Regions from separate parts of the Homo sapiens genome. Here regions 1 and 3 are each linked to region 2. Evidence: fine-mapped expression QTL. A gene starts in region 2. Each other region holds a variant in brackets. All regions are shown on one strand. Distances are between the middles of the regions.

Region 1 (7,934 bases), 200 kb after region 2:
ATCTCATCTTGACAAGCAGGACACAGAGAGGGAAACCCTGCAAAGTGATGCAGCATCCTTGGCGACTAGGCTTGAGAATCCAGGGTATTTTCCACACCCAGATCCATGGAAAGGTCATGGCGATGGACAAAGTGAAAGTGAGAAGGAAGCCCAGGGAGCCACTGACAGGGGGCACCTTGATGAAGAGGAGGTGATCGCCTCTGGTGTGGAGAATGCCTCAGGGATTTCTGAAAAAGGGCAGAGTGACCAGGAACTGTCTTCTCTGGTTGCATCTGAACATCAGGAAATCTGCATTAAATCAGGCAAAATCAGCTCTCTTGCTGTCACTTTCAGTCCTCAAACCGAGGAACCAGAGGAAGTTTTAGAGTATGAGGAGGGGTCTTACAATCTAGACTCCCGTGATGTGCAAACAGGGATGTCCGCAGATAACCTGCAGCCAAAAGATACCCATGAAAAACACCTCATGAGTCAAAGAAATTCAGGTGAAACTACTGAGACTTCAGATGGGATGAATTTCACAAAATATGTATCTGTACCTGAAAAGGATCTTGAGAAAACTGAAGAATGTAACTTTCTAGAGCCAGAGAACGTGGGTGGAGGGCCACCTCACAGAGTTCCCCGAAGTCTTGATTTTGGGGACGTCCCTATAGACAGTGATGTGCATGTCAGCAGCACATGTTCTGAGATAACCAAAAATCTTGACGTTAAGGGGTCTGAAAATAGCCTTCCAGGAGCCGGTTCGTCTGGAAATTTTGACAGAGATACTATTTCTAGTGAGTATACTCATTCAAGTGCATCAAGTCCTGAGTTAAATGACTCTTCAGTTGCACTGTCCTCCTGGGGCCAGCAACCCAGTTCTGGGTATCAAGAAGAAAACCAAGGCAACTGGAGTGAACAGAATCACCAAGAATCTGAACTAATTACCACTGATGGCCAAGTAGAAATAGTTACCAAAGTGAAGGATTTAGAGAAAAACAGAATAAATGAGTTTGAAAAGAGCTTTGATCGCAAAACTCCTACATTTTTAGAGATCTGGAATGACTCAGTTGATGGTGATTCCTTTTCCTCTTTATCCAGTCCTGAAACAGGCAAATATTCTGAACATTCAGGGACACATCAGGAAAGCAATCTAATTGCTAGCTACCAGGAGAAAAATGAACATGACATTTCTGCAACTGTGCAGCCAGAGGATGCCAGGGTCATTTCAACAAGCTCAGGTTCTGATGATGACAGTGTCGGTGGTGAAGAGTCAATAGAGGAAGAGATCCAGGTGGCCAACTGCCACGTTGCTGAGGATGAATCCAGAGCTTGGGATTCATTGAATGAATCTAATAAGTTCTTGGTCACAGCTGATCCTAAGTCTGAAAATATTTATGACTACCTAGACAGCTCAGAGCCAGCAGAGAATGAGAATAAGTCAAACCCATTCTGTGACAATCAACAAAGCAGCCCTGATCCCTGGACTTTCTCACCATTAACGGAGACTGAAATGCAGATTACAGCAGTGGAGAAGGAGAAGAGATCTTCTCCAGAAACAGGGACAACAGGAGATGTTGCATGGCAAATATCTCCCAAAGCTTCGTTCCCAAAGAACGAAGATAATTCTCAACTGGAAATGCTGGGCTTCTCAGCTGATAGCACTGAGTGGTGGAAGGCCTCACCCCAGGAAGGGAGACTAATTGAAAGTCCATTTGAAAGGGAGCTGTCTGACTCCAGTGGTGTGTTGGAGATAAATTCTTCAGTACACCAAAATGCCAGTCCCTGGGGAGTACCAGTTCAGGGTGATATTGAGCCCGTGGAAACACACTATACTAATCCTTTTAGTGACAACCATCAGTCACCCTTTCTGGAAGGTAATGGGAAGAACTCCCATGAGCAACTCTGGAACATTCAACCAAGGCAGCCAGACCCAGATGCTGACAAGTTCAGCCAGCTTGTAAAATTAGACCAAATTAAAGAAAAGGACTCAAGAGAGCAAACCTTTGTGTCTGCTGCTGGTGATGAGCTGACTCCTGAAACACCTACCCAAGAGCAGTGTCAGGACACCATGCTGCCAGTCTGTGATCATCCGGACACAGCCTTTACTCACGCAGAGGAAAATAGTTGTGTTACATCTAATGTTTCAACTAATGAAGGTCAAGAAACAAATCAGTGGGAACAAGAAAAATCATACCTAGGTGAGATGACAAATTCAAGCATTGCCACAGAAAATTTTCCTGCTGTCAGTTCTCCCACCCAACTGATAATGAAGCCAGGCTCTGAATGGGATGGCTCTACCCCAAGTGAGGACTCCCGAGGTACCTTTGTGCCAGATATTTTACATGGCAACTTTCAAGAGGGTGGGCAGCTGGCCTCTGCCGCGCCTGACTTGTGGATAGATGCTAAGAAGCCCTTCAGTTTGAAAGCAGATGGTGAGAATCCTGATATCCTGACGCACTGCGAACATGACAGCAATTCTCAGGCTTCCGACAGCCCTGATATATGTCACGATTCTGAAGCAAAGCAAGAGACTGAGAAGCACCTCAGTGCTTGCATGGGACCTGAAGTGGAATCCAGTGAGCTTTGTCTCACTGAGCCAGAGATAGATGAAGAACCCATTTATGAGCCTGGACGGGAGTTTGTCCCATCCAATGCAGAACTCGATTCTGAAAACGCAACTGTGCTGCCTCCAATTGGCTATCAAGCAGACATAAAGGGCTCCTCTCAGCCC[G/A]CCTCTCATAAAGGTTCACCTGAACCTTCTGAAATAAACGGTGACAACAGTACAGGTTTACAAGTATCAGAAAAAGGAGCCAGCCCAGATATGGCACCAATTTTGGAACCAGTTGACAGAAGAATCCCAAGGATTGAAAATGTGGCAACTAGCATTTTTGTAACTCACCAAGAGCCAACTCCAGAAGGTGACGGTTCTTGGATATCAGACAGCTTTTCTCCTGAAAGTCAGCCTGGTGCAAGAGCTTTGTTTGATGGTGATCCACATTTATCCACAGAGAATCCTGCCTTGGTTCCTGATGCTTTGCTAGCCTCAGACACTTGTCTGGATATAAGCGAAGCTGCCTTTGACCACAGTTTCAGCGATGCCTCAGGTCTCAACACATCCACGGGAACAATAGATGACATGAGTAAACTGACATTATCCGAAGGCCATCCGGAAACGCCAGTTGATGGGGACCTAGGGAAGCAAGATATCTGCTCATCTGAAGCCTCGTGGGGTGATTTTGAATATGATGTAATGGGCCAGAATATCGATGAAGATTTACTGAGAGAGCCTGAACACTTCCTGTATGGTGGTGACCCTCCTTTGGAGGAAGATTCTCTGAAGCAGTCGCTGGCACCGTACACACCTCCCTTTGATTTGTCTTATCTCACAGAACCTGCCCAGAGTGCTGAAACAATAGAGGAAGCTGGGTCTCCAGAGGATGAATCTCTGGGATGCAGAGCAGCAGAGATAGTGCTTTCTGCACTTCCTGATCGAAGAAGTGAGGGAAACCAGGCTGAGACCAAAAACAGACTGCCTGGATCCCAGCTGGCTGTGCTGCATATTCGTGAAGACCCTGAGTCCGTTTATTTGCCGGTAGGAGCAGGCTCCAACATTTTGTCTCCATCAAACGTTGACTGGGAAGTAGAAACAGATAATTCTGATTTACCAGCAGGTGGAGACATAGGACCACCAAATGGTAAGAAACATTCCATTCTTCCACTTCCAAGAAACTGCTGCGTTGATTAAACTAGTGCATATTTGTAAGACACACTCTTCCTACCAATGAGGGTAGAGAGAAAACTAACTACATTTTCAAGGCATGCCTCACTAAGTCCTGTATTATAACAGCAGTAAAATCTAGTGCATATGTAATACCTATTCCTGATAGTGCACGAGAAAATCGAATGACTCTACAAAATAAAAATATTTTCTAGCTGGGCGCGGTGGCTCACGCCTGTAATCTCAGCACTTTGGGAGGCCAAGGAGGGGGGATCACCTGATGTCAGGTGTTCGAGACCAGCCTGGGCAGCATGGTGAAACCCCATGTCTACTAAAAATACAAAAATTAGCTGGGCGTGGGGGCAGGTGCCTGTAGTCCCAGCTACTCGGGAGGCTGAGGCAGAAGAATAGCTTGAAACCAGGAGGTGGAGGTTGCAGTGAGCCGAGATCACACCATTGCACTCTATCCTGGGTGACAGAGCGGGACTCTGTCTCAAATGAATGAATGAATAAATAAATAAAATATATAAAAAATATTAAATTACCTCTTTTAGATGATCATTTGCAAGGATCACAAATCACACAATGTGTTAATTAAACCTTTTTCTCCTCTTCTCACTTTCAACTTCCACTTCTAGGTGCCAGCAAGGAAATATCAGAATTGGAAGAAGAAAAAACAATTCCTACCAAAGAGCCTGAGCAGATAAAATCAGAATACAAGGAAGAAAGATGTACAGAGAAGAATGAAGATCGTCATGCACTACACATGGATTACATACTTGTAAACCGTGAAGAAAATTCACACTCAAAGCCAGAGACCTGTGAAGAAAGAGAAAGCATAGCTGAATTAGAATTGTATGTAGGTTCCAAAGAAACAGGGCTGCAGGGAACTCAGTTAGCAAGCTTCCCAGACACATGTCAGCCAGCCTCCTTAAATGAAAGAAAAGGTCTCTCTGCAGAGAAAATGTCTTCTAAAAGCGATACGAGATCATCTTTTGAAAGCCCTGCACAAGACCAGAGTTGGATGTTCTTGGGCCATAGTGAGGTTGGTGATCCATCACTGGATGCCAGGGACTCAGGGCCTGGGTGGTCTGGCAAGACTGTGGAGCCGTTCTCTGAACTCGGCTTGGGTGAGGGTCCCCAGCTGCAGATTCTGGAAGAAATGAAGCCTCTAGAATCTTTGGCACTAGAGGAAGCCTCTGGTCCAGTCAGCCAATCACAGAAGAGTAAGAGCCGAGGCAGGGCTGGCCCGGATGCAGTTACGTTGCAGGCTGTCACCCATGACAATGAATGGGAAATGCTTTCACCACAGCCTGTTCAGAAAAACATGATCCCTGACACGGAAATGGAGGAGGAGACAGAGTTCCTTGAGCTCGGAACCAGGATATCAAGACCAAATGGGTAAGCAAAAAGCTAGATTTATTTTTTTTCCTGAAAAGCAATTTATTTAGAAACCTGGGAAATGGTTAGAGGTTATGGAATATGAGGAATACCTGGATGATAGCAGCTTTGCTTATATTGAATGCAAGGCACACCATCAGTAAAAGCAGCTACTAGATAACTATAACCATAATGATAATTTATGTACATTTTCAGCCAAAAAGCCCCTTCAATTTTCATTCAGTCTTATACCTACCCCCCAACTGCCACCCCACCTACTTGAATACCTACATGACTCTTCAACAGGCAGTTGGGAATACAAGGAAGTGACACTAACATTTAATCAGCACCTACTATGTGCAAGGCAGTTTGCATACATTATCTCATTTAATCCTAACATGCCAGTGGGGGGAATGGAAGGAGTAGGGTTGAGTAGGGGGATTCAAGGCTCAGAAATTTTCTATAATTTGCCTAGAATTAAGTAACCAGAGTGAACACCTGGGATTCGAAGCTTGCCACCTCCAAAGCCTGTACTTTCTCAGTTGACACACCGCTTAGCATACAGAGGCATTTTCATATTTTCAAATACAAGGCATTTTCTGGTTTTATGTAAGCACCTAACTTATAGTTAGATAAGAGACAGGCTCCACAGCAGTCTCCAAATCTCAGTGTAACACATTCATTCCCTAATTGGCAGAGAAATTGGCAAACTGTCATTAAATCAGTGATTCATTCATTCATTCATTCACCATGTGGTTTTTGAGAGCTTGCTCTGTGCCGTGGTTCTGGGTAGCCAATGGGCATATATCAGGGAATAGGATGTCATCACTGCCCTCAAGCTTCCAGTCTCTGCTGAAACTGTTTAGCATTCTTCATTTCTCTTCATTTGTGTTTATGAAGCCCACCTGCTTCCAGGGACAAAAGAACAAATTGTGAAAAGTAACTTAAGTAACGGGGAAAGTCATGTTTTCTCCTTAAAATGTAATAGAGAAAAGATATCGGCCAGGTGCGGTGGTTCATACCTGTAATCCCAACACCTTGGGAGCCCAAGGTGAGTGGATCACTTGAGGTCAGGAGTTTGAAACCACCCTGGCTAACATGGTGAAACCCCGTCTCTACTAAAAATTCAAAACTTAGCTGGGGTGGTGGCAGCACCTGTAATCCCAGCTACTTGGGAGGCTGAGACAGGAGAATTGCTTGAACCTGGGAGGTGGAGGTTGCAGTGAGCCGAGATCGTGTGACTGCACTCCAGCCTGAGTGACAGAGCCAGACTCCGTCTCAAAAAAAAAAAAAAGCGAGAAAAGATATATTTTTGCTACTCAGCTTGGGAGTGTAAAGGACTATACACATCACATACCCACAGTGAGTCAAGGAATCTGGATTCCAGCCTGCCTCTACCATGACTGATTATACATTTTAGGATTAATCCCAGGCTTAGGTTTTCTCATGCGTAAAATTAGTGAGTTGGGCTGAAAGATCTCAAGGCTTCCTGCAGTATTAAATTCTGGGAACTTAATTTGTGTGGAAACAGAATGTGTCCAGGGGAGCTTTGGCATTCACAAATTACATTTCTTGATGAAAGGAACAAGGACAATGGAAAGAATAGCTGGGGTATGTTGAGGATTAGCCAAGTGCAGAAGGGGTTAAAAGCTCTACCATATTCCAGGGCAGCTTCATAAATCCAGACATTGTCAGCTGGCCTAATCCTTCTTTCTTCCTGTCAAGCTATTTTCTTCCAGAGAGACCCCAGATCCGTTATCAGAAAGAGAGTAGCAGATGGATCCCAGCAGCCCTGCTGGCATTGTTATAGATTGAGCTCAGAACTCAGGCAGCCATGAGTTGGCTGAGCTATTGTTTGGCTTCTTGTGTGCATTTTGCACATGCCCCGAGATCCAACAGATGACAGTCAGTGTTCAATTGTGCCACCAGCACCTTTTCTTTCAACAAGATTTCTTTGCTCATCCCTTTCTGCTCAGCTTTTGTAGTACTGAAACTTTTCTCACAATGGGGATGGGGCAGATTTTCCCTCCGGCATGTGTATTATCTTTTGCATAAATAATTTACTGTGAATGTGTAAGTCTCCCTCTGTGCTAGATTTTGGGAGAATAAAGAGTTGTCTAAAACTGTGGTTCTCTAAGTGGGGTCCTAAGAACAGCAGCATCAGTATCACCTGAGTACTTGTTAGAAATGCAAATTATCGGCTCCGACTCAGACCTCCGGAATCAGGAACTCTGGGGGTGAGGCCCAGCCAGCTGAGCTTCAGCAACTCCTGATGCCCTCCAAAGCTTGAGAACCACTGGTTTAAAACATACTGTCAGCCGTCTAGGAGTTTACAGTTTAACTAAAGAGTTAGACATAAGTAAAAAGGTAGATAGCAGTGTAATATTTAAGTCAAGCTAGTCAATGCCCAATGTCAGTTTAAGTATAAAATGGGTACTAACTACAGGCTATTTGCTGTTGGACCAGGTGTTAAGCACTCTGCGCTATTTCACTTTACATAGGGCAACCCTGCGAGACAAGAATTATACAAGTGAGGAAATAAGAGGAGAGATATCTGTTTCGGGCGCCTTTATGGAGCAGGCAGCAGGAATGGCTTATTCTCTGTCAGACACAGGAGACAGAGTGCCCAGGGCCCATGATACTTTAAGGAGCCCATGAGAATATTTTCTTTTATAGTCAGAAGAAAAAATTATTATACTTTCAAGTGGATTTGTCTTTATACCAACAAAGTTATAAAATAAATTTTTAAAAAATGTTTTAATGACAGAAGGGGCTTATGAAGGCACTCCTCAAGGGGCTTATGAAAGTCACTAAAGGAAAGGTCATAATTTGGAAAGGCAAAGAAGAGGGTAAGAAG
Region 2 (7,934 bases):
AATCACTGCATTTATCTATTTGGTAGTGACTAGCCTGTGAGCTCCTTGAGGGCAGGGATCATGTCTTATGCATCTTAGGGTAAACAAAATCCTATAAGAGCATAGTCTATGCTTCATAAATGCTCAAGGAAGGAATGAAAGAGAGCTGAGTTCCAGTCCTGGCCTCTGCTTCAAAGTAGCTCTGTTAGTCTGAGCAGGATGCTGAACTACTCCAGGCCTTGGTCCCATCTCAGTAATATGAGGAGATGGCATCATCAGAGGATCCCTTAAGTCTCTTTCTTTTTTTTTCCCCTAGCACTACCATTGTGTTAGTCCGCTCAGGCTGCTATAACAAAATATTTTAAATTGAGCAGCTTAAACAACAGACATTTATTTCTCACAGTTCTAGAGGCTGGGAAGTCCAAGATCCAGGTGCTGGCCAATTTGGTTCCTGATGAGGACACTTCCCTGCCTTGCAGATGGCCATGTTTCTCCTGTGTCCTCACATGGTGGGAAGGAAGAGGTGGGGGGAGGGAGAGAGAGAGACACTAATCCCATCATGAGCGCTCCACCCTCACCACCTCATCTAAACTTAATGACACCCAAAGGCCCACCTCCTGATACCAGCACATTGGGGGTTAAGGTGTCAACACAGGAATTTTGGGGGGACACAGGCATTTAATCCATAATAACCACTTTACTAATCTACTCAAGATAATGATTTCAAAAATAAAGAGAGTTCGGATACAGGTCTCAAATGAGGGGAGTCCAGGAATCAAGAAATCTGAGAGAGAGTAAAGCAAAGAGTAGAGGAAATGGGATTGTTCTGCCAACAAGGACAAGGGACTCTAGAGAGAAGAGGGTGAAATGAGGTTCAGATACAAATACATAAATTACGATCGTAGTGCTTGGAATAGAAAGAAAGGAAGTTGAAGGAGGCTTTTTTAAAGTTTGAACACTTTGGACTGGGGACTATTTGGCCACAGTGGGTGGCAGAGTGTAGTAAATCAAAGGGAACTCCAGGTTTTGTACCTGAGTGACTGAGGAATGCGAATTCATCTAACATCAGCAGTAGTTCCCAACCCTGACTACACGGAGAATTACCTGGAGAGCTTTGAAAAAATATTGATGCCTGGGCCCCTCTCAAGATCGCTCAATTCAGAATTTCTGTTCTGAATTGTTCTGTTTTAATGTTCCAGAGATGGAGCTTGGAACATTAGTTTGTTTTTTTGGAGGCTCCCAGGTGATTCCACTGTGCAGCCAGGGTTGACAATATCTTACCTAGAGTTAAAGTCACTAGATTTCTGGCTGCTATGGAATCATAAAAATTGGAGGATCAAATGCCGATAGCTACCAAATAACATCATGTATGGTTTGTGGTGTATGCAGAAAAATGACCTCCCAAAGATGTCTACAACCTAATCCTTAGAACCTATGAGTATGTTAGGTTACATGGCAAAGGGAATTAAGTTTTCAGATGAAATTAAGGTTGCTAATGAACTGACCTTGAAATGGGGGAGATTATCCTGGATTAACCAAATAGGCCCAATGTAAACACAAGGGCCCCTAAAAAGTGGAAAAGGAGGTTAGAAGAACAGTCAGAGAAATGAAATGTTGCTGGCTTTGAAGATGGAGTAAGTCTGGGCGCGGCAGCTCATGCCTGTAATCCTAGCACTTTGAGAGGCCGAGGCGGGCAGATCACTTGAGGTCTGGAGTTCCAGACCAGCCTGGCCAACATGGTGAAACCTGTCTCTACTAAAAATACAAAAATTAGCTGGGCATGGTGGTGCGCATCTGTAATCCCAGCTACTCGAGAGGCTGAGGCAGGAGAATAGCTTGAACCCGGGAGGCAGGGGTTGCAGTGAACCCAGGTTGTGCCATTCCACTCCAGCCTGGGGTACTAGAGGGAAACTCCATCTCGAAAAAAAAGAAAGAAAGAAAGAAAGAAAAAAACAGATGGAGGAAGATGCCACAAGTCAAAAAACATGGGCAGCTTCTAGTCGATTGTCCCCTAGAGCCTCTAAAAAAGAATGTAGCTCTGTTGATACCTTGCTTGCCCAATGAGACCTGTGTAGGACTTTTGACCTACATAACTGTAAGGTAATACATTTATGTTGTTTCAAGCCACTGAATTTGTGAGATTCTGTTAAAACAGCCCCAGGAAGCTAATATAGGTGGTCAGCTTAGGAAGGTTTCATAGAAAATGTTAATTTTGATAAACTTTTGAAGGGACATTATTGGTGGAGAAAAAGATGGGGAGATTGATGTTGGAATTTGAGTCCATCAGAATTTTTTTTTAACATTTCAAGGATGTGTGATACCTACCTAGAATATTTATAAGCCAAAGCTAGAGGAATAAAACAGTATTATGTAATTGGTGCTAAATTCCCCAGTGAAGTCAGAGGCAAGGCATTCTCTAGAATTTTTCTCAGTAATGTTACTTGAATTGTGTGCAACTTCACAGATTTAAAGGCTGACAAAATACTTGCTTTACCTGGTTGGTTTTAAATTACTTAAGTCAGTACAGAAAGCAGACAGAATCTCCAGCTTCCACAAAGCCCACCCCTGAATGTCACCTGGAGCTTAATATTCTTATCACTCTCCTTTAATCAGATCTGTGGACCCTGCTGATTTGTTTTCATTGGATCCTTCTGAATAAAAAATAATTGGATCATGAGACACACATATACACACAGAGACAGACAAGAAAACAGACACACATTGAGACAGGAGAAATAGAGCAAAAAAAAAAAAAACCCTTCCATATGTACCTTTTTTCATTAAAACATATTTATTGAGGACCTGTATATGACATGAACATACATCATGTTAGGGTTCCATCAGTGAATGAGACAGGCAAGGTCCCTGTCTTTACAGAGCTCACAGCCTGGTGGAGGACATAGACAAATAATTATGCAATTTATAGCAGAGTGGAAAATGTAAGTTGCTATGAGGGAATACAGAAGGGGCAACCAACTCAGTCTGGGGATGGGAAGGGAAAAGTGTGTTGGGGAGGCTTTCTGGAGAAAGAGAACTTCTACGCCACTCACTGTCAAAGTGTGGTTTTTGGATCAGCAGCATCGGCAAACCCTGGGAGATTGTATACATGGACATTCTCAGGCCCATTAAGCCACACCTATTAGGGCTAAAATTCTAAGGATGGGGCACGGAAATCTGTGTTTCATCAAGCCCTCTAAGTGATTTAGATACATGTAAAGTTCATCGAGAATCAGAGCATCACACCTGAACTGCACATTAGAATCACTTGGGTCACTTTCCACAGAAATGCTGTGGCCCCATGCCCAGAGATATTAATTTAATTGGACTGGGATAAAGCCCTGGTATCAGTACTTTCTCAAGTCTCAGGTGATTACGATGTGATTTTACTGTGCAGTCAGGGTTGAGGCTACTTCTGTAGAACAGCTGAGGCTGGGGGCTAGGACAAGGGCTGGAAGGATCTTACAGGTGGTGTGCAAAAGCCCAGAGGTCAGAGAAAGCCTGATGTAGTGTGTTTGGGGACCGGACAAGGCTACATACAACAAAACCCCATGATTTAAAATAAGGTTTGTAGATATAAGTTCATTTGTTCATTGTAGTACTTCTTAAACTTTAACAAGCATAGAAATCATCTGAGGGTCTCATAGAAACACACAGATTCTGATTTGGTAAGTAGGAGCAGGGGACTGAGGTTCTGCATTTCTATAAGATCAGCGATGCTGATGTTGCCGGTCTGCAGACTGCACCTCACCTTAGCAAGGTTCTATTGCCCCAGCTTTCCCTGAGGGTACATGTCAGTGGATGGGAACTGCAGAAGGATGTATCTATGCATTAGTCCCAGGGCTGACATAAGGGCACCTAGTTGGGGTGAACTGTGGATGCCCATTGTTGTGTGGACATGTTTTCATGGTAGGGAGGAAAGACGCAGCCTCGCCCAACCTCCTAGCCTGCTCTTCTGATTATTATCCATCAAGGTCGTACTGCTTTTAGCTCAGCAGTAACTCCCCTCTTTCTCTCCTCGTCCCTCCCACGCCAATCTAGCTGAGTGCCTCCCCCGGCCAGGCCAGCCGACCAGATCATTAAGTGACCGCCGGAGTGCTCCGTAACGCGCCAGCCAGCCAGTGAGGCGCTGGGCGAGGCGGGGGCTCTCCTGGGACCCGTCTCCCTCTTCCCACCTTCCCCCGCTGACCGCGGCGGTGCCTGCGGCAGAGCCTCCCTCTGCAGCAGCCCCTTGCACTTGGCTCGCACTTCTGGGCGCTGTCCATGGTTGCAGCAGCTTTCGGCGCGCCACGTCAGGAGGCCGCAGCACGGCCCTGCGATTGGCGGAGGAGCCCCTCGCCATACCCCTGCACCTCCGCCCACGCGCCACGGCGCCCGAGGCGCGTGCCAGAGAGCGTGCCCGGCGCGCCCCGGGGCTCCTGGGCGGCACACCCACTTTCCTTATTAGGGCAGAGTCGGGTGCCCAGAGCCGGCGGCCGGGCGAGGGGTGGGGCGGGGAGCCCTGGGCGAGACGGTCGAGGGCGCAAGCACAGCCTCCGCCGCAGCCGCCTCAGAGCGGCAGGAGGGAGCAGTCGGTCGCTGCGCCCCGGCGGGCCACTTTCCCGGGACCCCGCTCGTCTTCCTTGGGCCGAGATTTTCCACTGCGCCCCTCCGAGTACCCGGGTTCCAAACCCCTAGCCACGACATGGAAGAATTTTTGCAACGCGCCAAATCTAAACTGGTAAGTTGAGTGAGCAAAGCTGTGTGTGTGCGCGCGCGCGTATGCTAATGGAAAGGTGGAGAGGAAAAGGTGTTGCAGCAGAGGAGGAAGAAACAACTTTGCCACGGAGTTATCAGGGTGTGCGGGTTGTCTCCTGGAAGAAATCTCAGGAACTCTGGCTCTTAAAGCTGGCAATCTGTCTCCAGAATCCTCCACCGCAACCAGACGAGGTGCAGAGCTGAAGGAGGTTGTGGCCTGGCTGAAGTTGGGTCGCTTCAGTCCAGCTTCGGTCCCTAAATCAGCAGTTTGCTCCTGAAAGCTAAGGGATAAATGGGTGTGGTCTTCCTTGAGATAAAGAGCCCAGCCTTCTGCAGATGCATTACGTGTAAGTGTAAAAGGAAAAAAAGAGACCCTTAGAACTGTACTTCAGCTGGAGGTGACAAAAGTGAGGAAGTCAGGGTGCTGGGTAGCAAGGACATGTGTGGTACTGGAGAATCCACAGAATAGAGCTTGCTCCACTGCAGGAGTTAGGGATATTCTAGTGTGTCTTGTGTCTCGCTAATTCCTGTTCACATCTGTAAATTGGGGCGGAGGCAGAAGGGGAAAGCTCTAACTGTTGGTGTTCTGGAGTTTACCAGATCATCGTTCTCCCGGGAGCAGACCTGTGTGTTAGCCCATGTTTACCATATCACTGTCCAAACAGTGAATGGGCAACTCCACTGTGTATGTTAACAGTTGCTACACATTCTGAAACAACAGACTCTAGCAGTTTCTTAATTCCAAACTGTTTTGGCTCTCCAGCACAGCAGTAATAAACATAATGGAAATGTTTCTGTTTTGGCAGAAAAAAAAAGAAAAGCCTGTACTCATTTAGAAGCAATATCTTTAAAGAACTGTAAAAGCACCTTTTACAGGCCTGGCATAGAAAGAAATGCATAATTTATGATGCCTTTAACCTTTAAGCCTTCATAGAAGCCAAAATGTAAAGTCTGCATTAAGGTAATGTTTTAATCACAAGGCAGGATATTTGCAGGGTTATTACTGTAACTCATTTACCCTCGCACAACAAAGGGAGTGCAGGAAGGGAGGGCCCAAAGATGCCTGAACCACCATTCAGAGTGCAGACGGAAGTGTGATCCTTACAATGGTCTAACTGTAACTATCTTGTAAAAGACCATTAAAGTTGATAAGTGCTTATATAAAACTTTCTACCTGAAACCTCCCAGAGAGTTGAACGTTTGTGGAGATTTCCGAGTTGAGGAAGTTTGTGATCATCTCTGTGTTTATTGACCCTTTTATAGTTTTACTAGAGCACATGGATGAAAATACTAATTTCAGAAACTCAAGTAAGTATTTGGCATTTCTGATAGTATAAGTACATGTTCTGTTCTTTACCTAGTAATGAAGGAGAAATGTTCAAAAATGAAAGACAATTTTGGCAACTGTGCGTGTGTGTGTATGAAAATGGTAATCAATGACAAACACAGAGTTCTGGGCTGTATCTGTTTTTCACTCCCATAACATTTATTTATCAATATTTTCACAATAAACATTTAGACTGTGGGGTCTGATATGAGCAAGAGGTTTGTCTCAATTCTGAGGAGCAGTTGCTGGAATGGAAGTTTCCCTATTTCCGAGTAATGAGTTGAAAGTAATCTGTAATTTATTTACCCTTCATTAGACGAGCAATTGCTCTACATCATTAAAAAAAAAAGGACAGGAAAGAGAAGCGGTTGTTTGAAATATTGTTACCAGTTTCATGTCTTAGCCAGAACAATTACTGCTAATTTTATCGTTTCTTGGAATAAGCTTCTTCTAGAAATCATGATTAACCTTTCACATCCAGCCACAGCAAAGGTGTGTTGGTCACTTTTAGTGTCATATTTTCCTGAGAAGTTACATTTTCTAGGTAATAAGATTTTTACTTAATGTATGACACTCAAATATAGTAGTAGATAACATTCTCCTTTAGAGGGTAGATAACCTTTTTCTTGGAGAAAAAGAATTAAGTCAATGTCATTCACTTGTGGGAAATTTATTTATAATAAAAAGGTAAGATTTGGCCGGGTGTGGTGGCTCACGCCTGTAATCCCAGCACTTTGGGAGGCTGAGGCGGGTGGATCACCTGAGGTCAGGAGTTCGAAACCAGCCTGGCCAACATGGTGAAACCTCATCTCTACTAAAAGTACAAAAGTTAGCCAGGCATGGTGGCGTGTGCCTGTAATCCCAGCTACTAGGGGGGCAGAGGCAGGAGAATCACTTGAACCTCGGAGGCGGAGGTTGCAGTGAGTCGAGATTGTGCCACTGCACTCCAGCCTGGGCAACAGAGCGAGACTCAGTCTCAAAAATAAAATAAAATAAAATAAAATAGTAAGATTTTTAAAAATTCAGCCAATCCTTTGGAAAACATTTTAAGGTGAAGAAATTTACCATGCTGATTTTTACTTAAGCCTTATTAGACCAGAATTAGAATGTAGGAGCTATGTTTTAAATGTTTTTCTTTAGAAGTTTAGCTATATGATACCTAAACAAACAAACAAAAAAGCCTAATTACTAGTTTGGTTTTTTTTTTTCCTATTTGGCTTAATTGCTTTGTTATTCTGTGGGCATTATATATATTTTTTAATGGTTTGAAATAGTTAATGACTCCTCCAAAGTCCTAACATAACCTCATCATCATTGGGGCTAGCTAATTCCAATAGGCAAAAAGAACTTTAAATTGCAAAATGGAATTGCTATTAGCCATAGATATAATCTCCAATAATCAAAATGTTGGAAAAATTGTGTGTCTTTTTTTCTGACTGGGAACATTTATTATTCATCTGTCATTGTAAGGAGAGAGGAAACTCTGCTATTCTAGGCCAGGCCCCTAGGTTGAACAGAAGTCTTTGAAAGAAAAGGATATTTTGAATTTTTATCAGGTAGTTTGGAGCTGATTTCCAATAAGTTAGGAGATCACTCTCAATTCTATTTTTAATCCCAGTCTGGCCCTACTACTCTTTAAATTGAGGCAGATTCACTGACATAATCCCATCCTCCTTTTCCCTAAATCTCCCTTTCTAATACCTTTCCCTCCCTCCTGAGAATACTCAGTATTTATCAGAAATGGCAAAAGTAAACTCCAGGTGTGGCCTCAGAGGCATCCCTCCTCCTGGGGCTCAAATGCTTCTCATGTGGGCCTGACTTCTGCCTGGTTAGGACAGGCTGGGGGCTGGAGCATATTTGTGAAAAACTTGGTTGGAGGTGGGGCACGGCTAGG
Region 3 (7,934 bases), 190 kb after region 2:
AAAAAGAAAATATAGTCTTGATCCAGTGCCCAACCTGCTAAATGAGAACCTGTAGCAAATCGGCCCAGAAACGCACACCCTAAGGGGACTTTTATGATGAGGTTGCCATAGGAACAAAGAGCTGGCAGTGTGAGTCAGTACAAGTCCTGTGACAGTGCTGAGAGAGTCCAAAGGACTGGTTTGTAGGAAAATATATCAACTAATAAATCCCTCTCTGGAGTAGTGCTTTTCAGATTTCAACGTGCATTCCAATTCCTAGGATTGTTGGAAAATGCAGATCCTGCTTCAATAGGTCTAGTGTTTTGCCGGAGACTCTGCATTTCCAACAAGATGCCTGGTGTTGCCAATGCTTTTGGACTTGAGTCCATCGAGGTCCTAGAGCCATCAGTTTAACACAGAAGAATTAAAACAGTTTGGAGATCAGCCGGCATTTTTGAATAGGAAACTTTCCACAAGTGTGGCTTTGAACAGTGTTGATTCTACTGATTCTTAATCTTATGCTCAGATACAAATAAAACCTGCCCCCTCTTGTTTCAGTGACCCGGCCAGGAGTGTAGTGAGAATTTTGTTATATGTAAAAATCTCTTAGAAATGTGTGTCTTCTTTCAAGGGTTTATAAATGTATTTGGAGGCCTTTATATACATAACGAAAAATACTTAGAAAGGAAAACTGTAAGGCTTATTGTGCTGAAGCCTTCAGTTACTGGAAATAAGTTGTAGTTAGTTGTAGTCTCTTTTTATTTTTTTCAGGGCTATATCTTTTTTTACAGTTCATAGTTGCTACAAGTTTAGCAATGAGGTTCTTGATTCACCCTCAATGATGGTTTGAAATAATTTTATCTGTTGAACACACATTGTATATGAGTTTTGATTATTTAAAAAATCTCCTTTTAAATATTTAATGTCTTTCTATTGTGGATGAATTAATTTTTTAAACATCTACTTAAAGATTGTTATTAGGCCATTTGGAAAATAAATAAAAAGCATGAAAGCTGACAGTACACACTTTGGAACACACACTTCCAAAAGCATATGTTCCAAACGCATATGACTTATATGATCATAAATGTCATTACAATAGATCCTTGATGTTCATCAGCATGAGAATAGATCCTGAGACCTTTGTGGATTCGTATGTGCAATTCCTTGCAACCAAAAAAGGGAAAGTGGCCCAGTAAGATGCCAGATGAGAGTGGCTGCCTTGGAGTAGACAGCAAAGCCTCCTCGAAACATGGAAGCCCGTGATGGGCGGGGCCTGCCTGCCTACCTACCCAGGGTCTTGTGTGCCCTCTTCAGAGCCTCACAGACCTTGAGATTCAACTCAGCAGAATTACAGAGTACGGGTATGATGGCTTTTTGAAGTGGCTGGTAAATAGTCTAAGCCACAAATACCCAATCCACGAGTTTCAAAGAATGACCACATAGACATTAATGTGGGTATGGGGAAATCTGCAACTCTCTGCACGGCATCGTTCACATCTTCACAGTGGCTGTCCTAGGAGATGTGTGTGGCACTTCCACTTTCTGTGGTACACATTTCTGTGTTGTTTTAGTATCTTACCCATGACAGGCATAATTCTGATTGCTATTATAATCAGAAAAAATGAACAGAATCTTTTAAATCCCTTGAGTGCACATCATGGTGTTTTTTGTTGAGTGACACAATAGACTGTCAGTTGATGAATTATGTGGTATGATCATATATGTGCTAGGATAGATATATATGTGGACTATGATAGAAGATTATGGATGATGGAGCACAGGTTGATTTTGTGTACCTGTCTCTCCAGTCATCCGACAAACATTTCTTGAACAACTAGTATATGCCAGGCATTATGTTAGGGGCTAGCATATGTTCTTCACTGTACTTCTTTAAGGAAGAGAGACACCCACACAGAGAAAGTGGCTCTCATTGTAGTTAATAAAACTCAAAGACCGGACCGGGTGCGGTCTTACGCCTGTAAGCCCAGCACTTTGCAAGGATGAAGTGGGTGGATCAGTTGAGCCCAGGAGTTCGAGACCAGCCTGGGCAAAATGGCAGAACCTGACGCCTACAAAAAAATACAATAAATTAGCTGGGCATGGTGATACACACCTGTAGCCCCAGCTACTTGGGAGGCTGAACTGGGAGGATTGCTTGAGCCCAGGAGGCATAGGTTGCAGTGAGCCGAGATAACGCCACAGCACTCCAGCCTGGGTGACAGTGTGAGACCCTGTCTCAAAAATAAATAAATAAGTACATACATACAGTAAATAAAACTTGAAGCAGCCAGAACATTTTTGCAAATGATATGAGCCACATCTGGGTAATCTGAGGTATTGGGATCCCTTTCTGCAATTATTCATTCCTCCACAGCTGCCACATAGAACAAGCAAATCTGACATCACAGCTCTTTTAAAAATCTCCCAGAATTCTACACTGGAATAAAGATCACCCAGTAAACTCAGCTATGTTGATTCGTAGGAATTTCTCCTTGGAGTTAATAATAATCATTAGAAAAAAAATACAGGAAGAAATAACTTCCTCCTATTCTTATTGTGATAAATTGTAACAATAGCAGACATTCGTATATAGATCCTATAAGCGACAAGAGGGAAAATAGGATTTGCAAATTAAGCATCTGAATAAATATTTTAGAAAAAAATGTTTAGGATATCTGTTCTTTGTCTAAACTATTATTAATAATGGCAAAAACTCCTTTCTTACATGGTTTGGGAAAACAAACAAGCAAAGTGTATTTTAAGCCATAGCATGAAAGTTTCCACTCCTTCTCAAAGCAAACTGTATTTCACTTGCCTTAAATAATAAATATCTCTCCTAAATACATCATAAGACTGGACAAATTTGTGGAACAACTCCCCGCAGCTGGGCAGTTTGACATTAATATCAAATTTCCTGTTGTCGTTTCAGAATTGTCTATTTCACAGCAATATTACCAGTGACTTGAAAGCATTTACAGACAAGTTTGGTTTTGATGTCCTCATCCTGTTCTCCAGCTATCTGTCAGAGGAGCAGCAGCCGAGACGACAGATTGCTGTGTACTCAGAAAACATGGAGCTGTGCAGTCAGGTGAGCCCCTCCTCTGACCCCGTCATGTTCCCTCTGTCCTAACCTGCTGGCTCTCAGAACACACAGTGCAAGACAGAACAGATTGGTGGCTCATGAGCAATTAGCCCAAGAGGTAGAGTCCTAGAGGTTTGAGTTTTAGGAAATGATGGGGGTACTTTTTACATTTGGCCTTTTAAGAAAGCCCCAAAAGCATTTCTCTTCTTGACTGAATCCATAGTGCAAAACATTAGCTCTTTCTCATTCCCAAAAGAGCAAGTTCTCCTTTGGGTGCTATTTTCTTCTAGGACTGCTCCCTGATCATAACTGACAAGGTTTAGCCCCTGTCCCAGGACCGGTTTGGTGCCCAGTGTTTAAGACCTGGTGATCTGATGCTTTAATCAAAGTTAGTTTGTCTCCAGGTACCAGAACTCTGACTAGGTAATCAGTTATCCTCCAGGTTGATAGCTGAGTCTTTTAACCCAAGGCCTAGGAAATAAAAAAAAAAAAGAATTAGATAAATTAATCAAAATAGGCCATCGGATATACCAAGCCAGGTGTACTTAATAACTAATATGAGAACATACATGATTCATTATAATAGGAGCCACACGGGGCCCCAGATGCTTCATTACTTATTTCTCTTCACTAATGGATTCAATGCCTTATGTATCCATGGGTGGCTAGAGGCACAGTCTCTGCCCCTTTCTTTTCTACATCCTCCTTTCTGTCCCCCAAGAGCTCCACTGTAGCTCTCTTGACCCATGCCTATGGGTACTCTCGGGCTCTCTCAAGTCCGAATGTGAAAGAGCATCTCCTCCTCTGACCTGCATCACCAGCCTGTGGTTTTTTCATCACTTTCCTCTGCATTTGGTTTCAAAGCTAAATTTCATCTTTGGTCACTGGCTTCCCAGGGACGGGATTTAGGCCTTGGAAGCCTACAACATGGCGGCTTTCACATCACTTTTAGCAGTAGACCCCTTTTTCAAACCAATGTGAAAATTGGTTCATTGGAAACAGACAAAAGTAGAAGAGCAGATGAAGGAGTTAAAAGCTCTTGAGTTGACCCCAGTCCTCCTCTCTTCTCCCCACCCACCCTCCCCATCCTAGCAATAGCCAGAGGTGGATCGCTGGAATCTTAAGCAACAGAGTCCTGGCTCTGGCCTAGCGAGTTCCTCTTGGCCTGTGTGGTCACACCACTGGCCGAGTCAGCCTTTGCAGCTAGGTTGCCTGGGTACAGAACTCAGGCTCCAGCACTTGTTAGCTGTGTGTTGCTGGACAAGTTATTTAATCTTCCTGTATCTTCATTTCTTCATGGGTAAAATAGGAATAAAAAGAGTTCCTACCTTGTGGAATTACTGTGGTGATTAAAAGAGATAATGATCATAAAACCCTTAGAACCATGCCTGGCACATGAAAGCACTCAATAAATGTTAATTAGTAGTAGTAGTAGTATCTATGTGAGCTCCATGGTGGTAGTGGTGGTTGTTATTATTATTATTAATTTTATCTCTACTAATCCCGTGGGGCCATTTCAAAGGCCCAGCACAACAAAATACTCCTGACATTCCTTAAAAATCAGAAAGCCGTAACCCAGTTCTGGCCTCACACTGACCATCCGTCAGTGTCCCCTTGCCTCCCAGGTTAGCTTTGCCTGTTTTGGGCTCCATGCCTCCGTTACCTGGGGTGAAAGGGACTGAGGGGTCCTGAGTGCTGTTCGGAAAGATCAGACTGCGGGAGCATCTTTGTCTTTCCTACTCTCTCTTTTGCATTCTGAAGCTATCAGAGGTTCAAGCAGCCCTGGCTGCCCCCTCCCAAACAACAGCCTGTCTCCTGATATTGTCCCCTTATTCCAACACTTTTCCTATAGTTGTCAGCAACATGCATTATCTCT[G/C]CTTTTTTGCAACTCGAATTACATTGCTATTGGAAGATGGTATTATATTACAGTTAGGAAAGAATAGGTGGTTTAAACTCCTTTACCCAAACGTTCAGGAGCCTTCAAAATCGAGCACCTGGATTTTGAATTAAACAGAGAGACAGTTGGATAGAATTGGAGAAAGGGTTGGTGGTACAGTAATCAGAACTTTCTAAGTTTGAGATCTTCTTTTTCAGACAGATGAACACAGATTAATTTTATATTTAAAAATTAAGCGAGATAAATTGCAAAGTGCAATTGCAAAGTGCAACAGTGCTTGAGTGCTGACACAAATTCCTGTGCCTTCCGACAGATTTGCTGTGAGCTGGAAGAGTGTCAGAACCCTTGCCTAGAACTGGAGCCCTTTGACTGTGGCTGTGATGAGATCCTGGTGTACCAACAAGAGGACCCTTCAGTGACTTGTGATCAGGTGGTTCTCGTTGTCAAGGAAGTCATCAACAGGAGGTGTCCAGAGATGGTCTCCAATAGCCGGACATCCTCAACAGAAGCCGTGGCAGGCAGTGCCCCCCTCTCCCAGGGGTCTTCTGGGATTATGGAATTGTATGGTTCTGACATAGAGCCACAACCCAGCTCTGTGAATTTCATAGAGAACCCTCCAGATCTCAATGATTCTAACCAGGCTCAGGTGGATGCCAATGTAGACCTTGTTAGCCCAGACAGCGGACTGGCTACCATTAGGAGCAGCCGCTCATCCAAGGAGAGCTCTGTTTTCCTCAGTGACGACAGCCCCGTGGGAGAAGGTGCTGGGCCTCACCACACCCTTCTCCCAGGGCTTGACTCCTACAGCCCCATCCCTGAAGGGGCGGTGGCGGAGGAACATGCATGGTCTGGAGAACACGGTGAGCACTTCGACCTCTTCAATTTTGACCCAGCACCCATGGCTTCTGGGCAGTCCCAGCAATCTTCTCATTCTGCAGACTACTCCCCAGCAGATGACTTCTTCCCCAACAGTGACCTGTCAGAAGGACAGCTCCCCGCTGGGCCTGAAGGACTTGATGGCATGGGAACCAACATGTCTAATTATTCATCCAGTTCACTTTTGTCAGGGGCTGGCAAAGATAGCCTTGTGGAACATGATGAGGAGTTTGTCCAGAGACAAGACAGTCCCAGAGATAACTCTGAAAGAAATTTGAGCCTGACAGATTTTGTGGGAGATGAATCCCCTTCCCCAGAAAGGCTAAAAAATACTGGAAAGAGGATCCCACCAACACCCATGAATAGTTTAGTAGAAAGCTCGCCATCCACTGAAGAACCAGCCTCACTCTATACAGAAGATATGACCCAAAAAGCAACTGACACAGGTCACATGGGGCCACCTCAGACCCATGCACGGTGCAGCAGCTGGTGGGGTGGTTTGGAAATTGACTCCAAAAATATTGCAGATGCGTGGAGTTCCAGTGAACAGGAATCTGTTTTCCAGAGCCCTGAATCATGGAAAGAGCATAAGCCAAGCTCCATTGATAGGAGAGCCTCAGATTCTGTATTTCAACCAAAGAGCCTCGAATTTACAAAGTCAGGTCCCTGGGAGTCTGAATTTGGTCAGCCTGAACTGGGTAGCAATGATATTCAAGACAAAAATGAGGAAAGCTTGCCGTTCCAGAACCTGCCCATGGAGAAGTCACCTTTGCCAAATACATCTCCCCAAGGAACAAACCACCTGATAGAAGACTTTGCTTCTTTGTGGCATTCTGGTCGCTCTCCCACAGCCATGCCCGAGCCCTGGGGAAATCCTACAGATGATGGTGAACCAGCAGCTGTGGCGCCATTCCCAGCCTGGAGTGCATTTGGTAAAGAAGATCATGATGAAGCTTTAAAAAATACCTGGAATTTGCACCCAACAAGCAGCAAGACACCTTCTGTTAGGGACCCGAATGAGTGGGCCATGGCAAAAAGTGGGTTTGCCTTTTCTTCTTCAGAACTACTGGACAATTCACCCAGTGAGATAAACAATGAAGCAGCTCCAGAAATCTGGGGCAAGAAAAACAATGACTCCAGGGATCACATCTTTGCACCTGGAAATCCCAGTTCTGATCTGGATCACACATGGACTAATTCTAAGCCACCAAAAGAAGATCAGAATGGTTTAGTGGATCCTAAAACTAGGGGCAAGGTATATGAAAAGGTAGATTCCTGGAACCTTTTTGAGGAGAATATGAAGAAAGGAGGGTCAGATGTCCTAGTTCCTTGGGAAGATTCCTTCTTATCTTACAAATGTTCTGATTACAGTGCATCCAACCTAGGAGAAGATTCGGTGCCTTCCCCCTTAGATACCAATTATTCCACCTCAGACTCTTACACATCACCAACATTTGCTGGAGACGAAAAGGAAACTGAACACAAGCCATTTGCTAAAGAGGAAGGTTTTGAGTCAAAAGATGGTAACTCCACGGCAGAGGAGACTGACATTCCTCCTCAGTCACTGCAACAGTCATCTCGAAATCGAATCAGTTCAGGTCCTGGGAACCTAGACATGTGGGCTTCACCTCATACAGATAACAGTTCTGAAATAAATACCACTCACAACCTGGATGAAAATGAACTCAAGACAGAGCACACAGATGGTAAGAATATCTCCATGGAGGATGACGTCGGGGAAAGCAGCCAGTCCAGTTACGACGACCCCAGCATGATGCAACTGTACAATGAAACAAACCGACAACTCACACTTTTGCACAGCAGCACCAACTCCCGGCAGACGGCCCCTGACAGTCTCGACTTGTGGAACAGAGTGATTTTGGAGGATACTCAGTCCACTGCAACGATCTCAGATATGGACAATGATTTGGACTGGGATGACTGCAGTGGGGGTGCGGCAATCCCCAGTGATGGTCAAACAGAAGGATACATGGCTGAAGGTTCCGAGCCGGAAACCCGATTTACAGTGAGACAGCTGGAACCCTGGGGCTTGGAGTATCAGGAAGCAAATCAGGTAGATTGGGAGCTCCCTGCCTC

The links.
Region 1: its variant is fine-mapped to the expression of PRUNE2 in whole blood (TOPMed, PIP above 0.99).
Region 3: its variant is fine-mapped to the expression of PRUNE2 in lymphoblastoid cells (GTEx, PIP above 0.99).

Annotation. Positions count from the first base shown.
Region 1 is chr9:76,700,501-76,708,434 of GRCh38, reverse strand. PRUNE2 (prune homolog 2 with BCH domain) reads left to right here. Exons shown (of 19, transcript NM_015225.3): 8 at 1-3,674; 9 at 4,336-5,098. Among named protein-coding and RNA genes, the nearest start is that of PCA3, 60 kb to the left of the region's middle. The variant G/A (reference allele first, on the strand shown) is at 2,711.
Region 2 is chr9:76,902,690-76,910,623 of GRCh38, reverse strand. PRUNE2 (prune homolog 2 with BCH domain) reads left to right here and starts at 4,510. Exons shown (of 19, transcript NM_015225.3): 1 at 4,510-4,696. The coding sequence starts at 4,661. RefSeq lists a silencer at 4,381-4,440.
Region 3 is chr9:76,708,699-76,716,632 of GRCh38, reverse strand. It overlaps PRUNE2 (prune homolog 2 with BCH domain), which reads left to right. Exons shown (of 19, transcript NM_015225.3): 7 at 2,912-3,070; 8 at 5,275-7,934. Among named protein-coding and RNA genes, the nearest start is that of PCA3, 52 kb to the left of the region's middle. The variant G/C (reference allele first, on the strand shown) is at 4,941.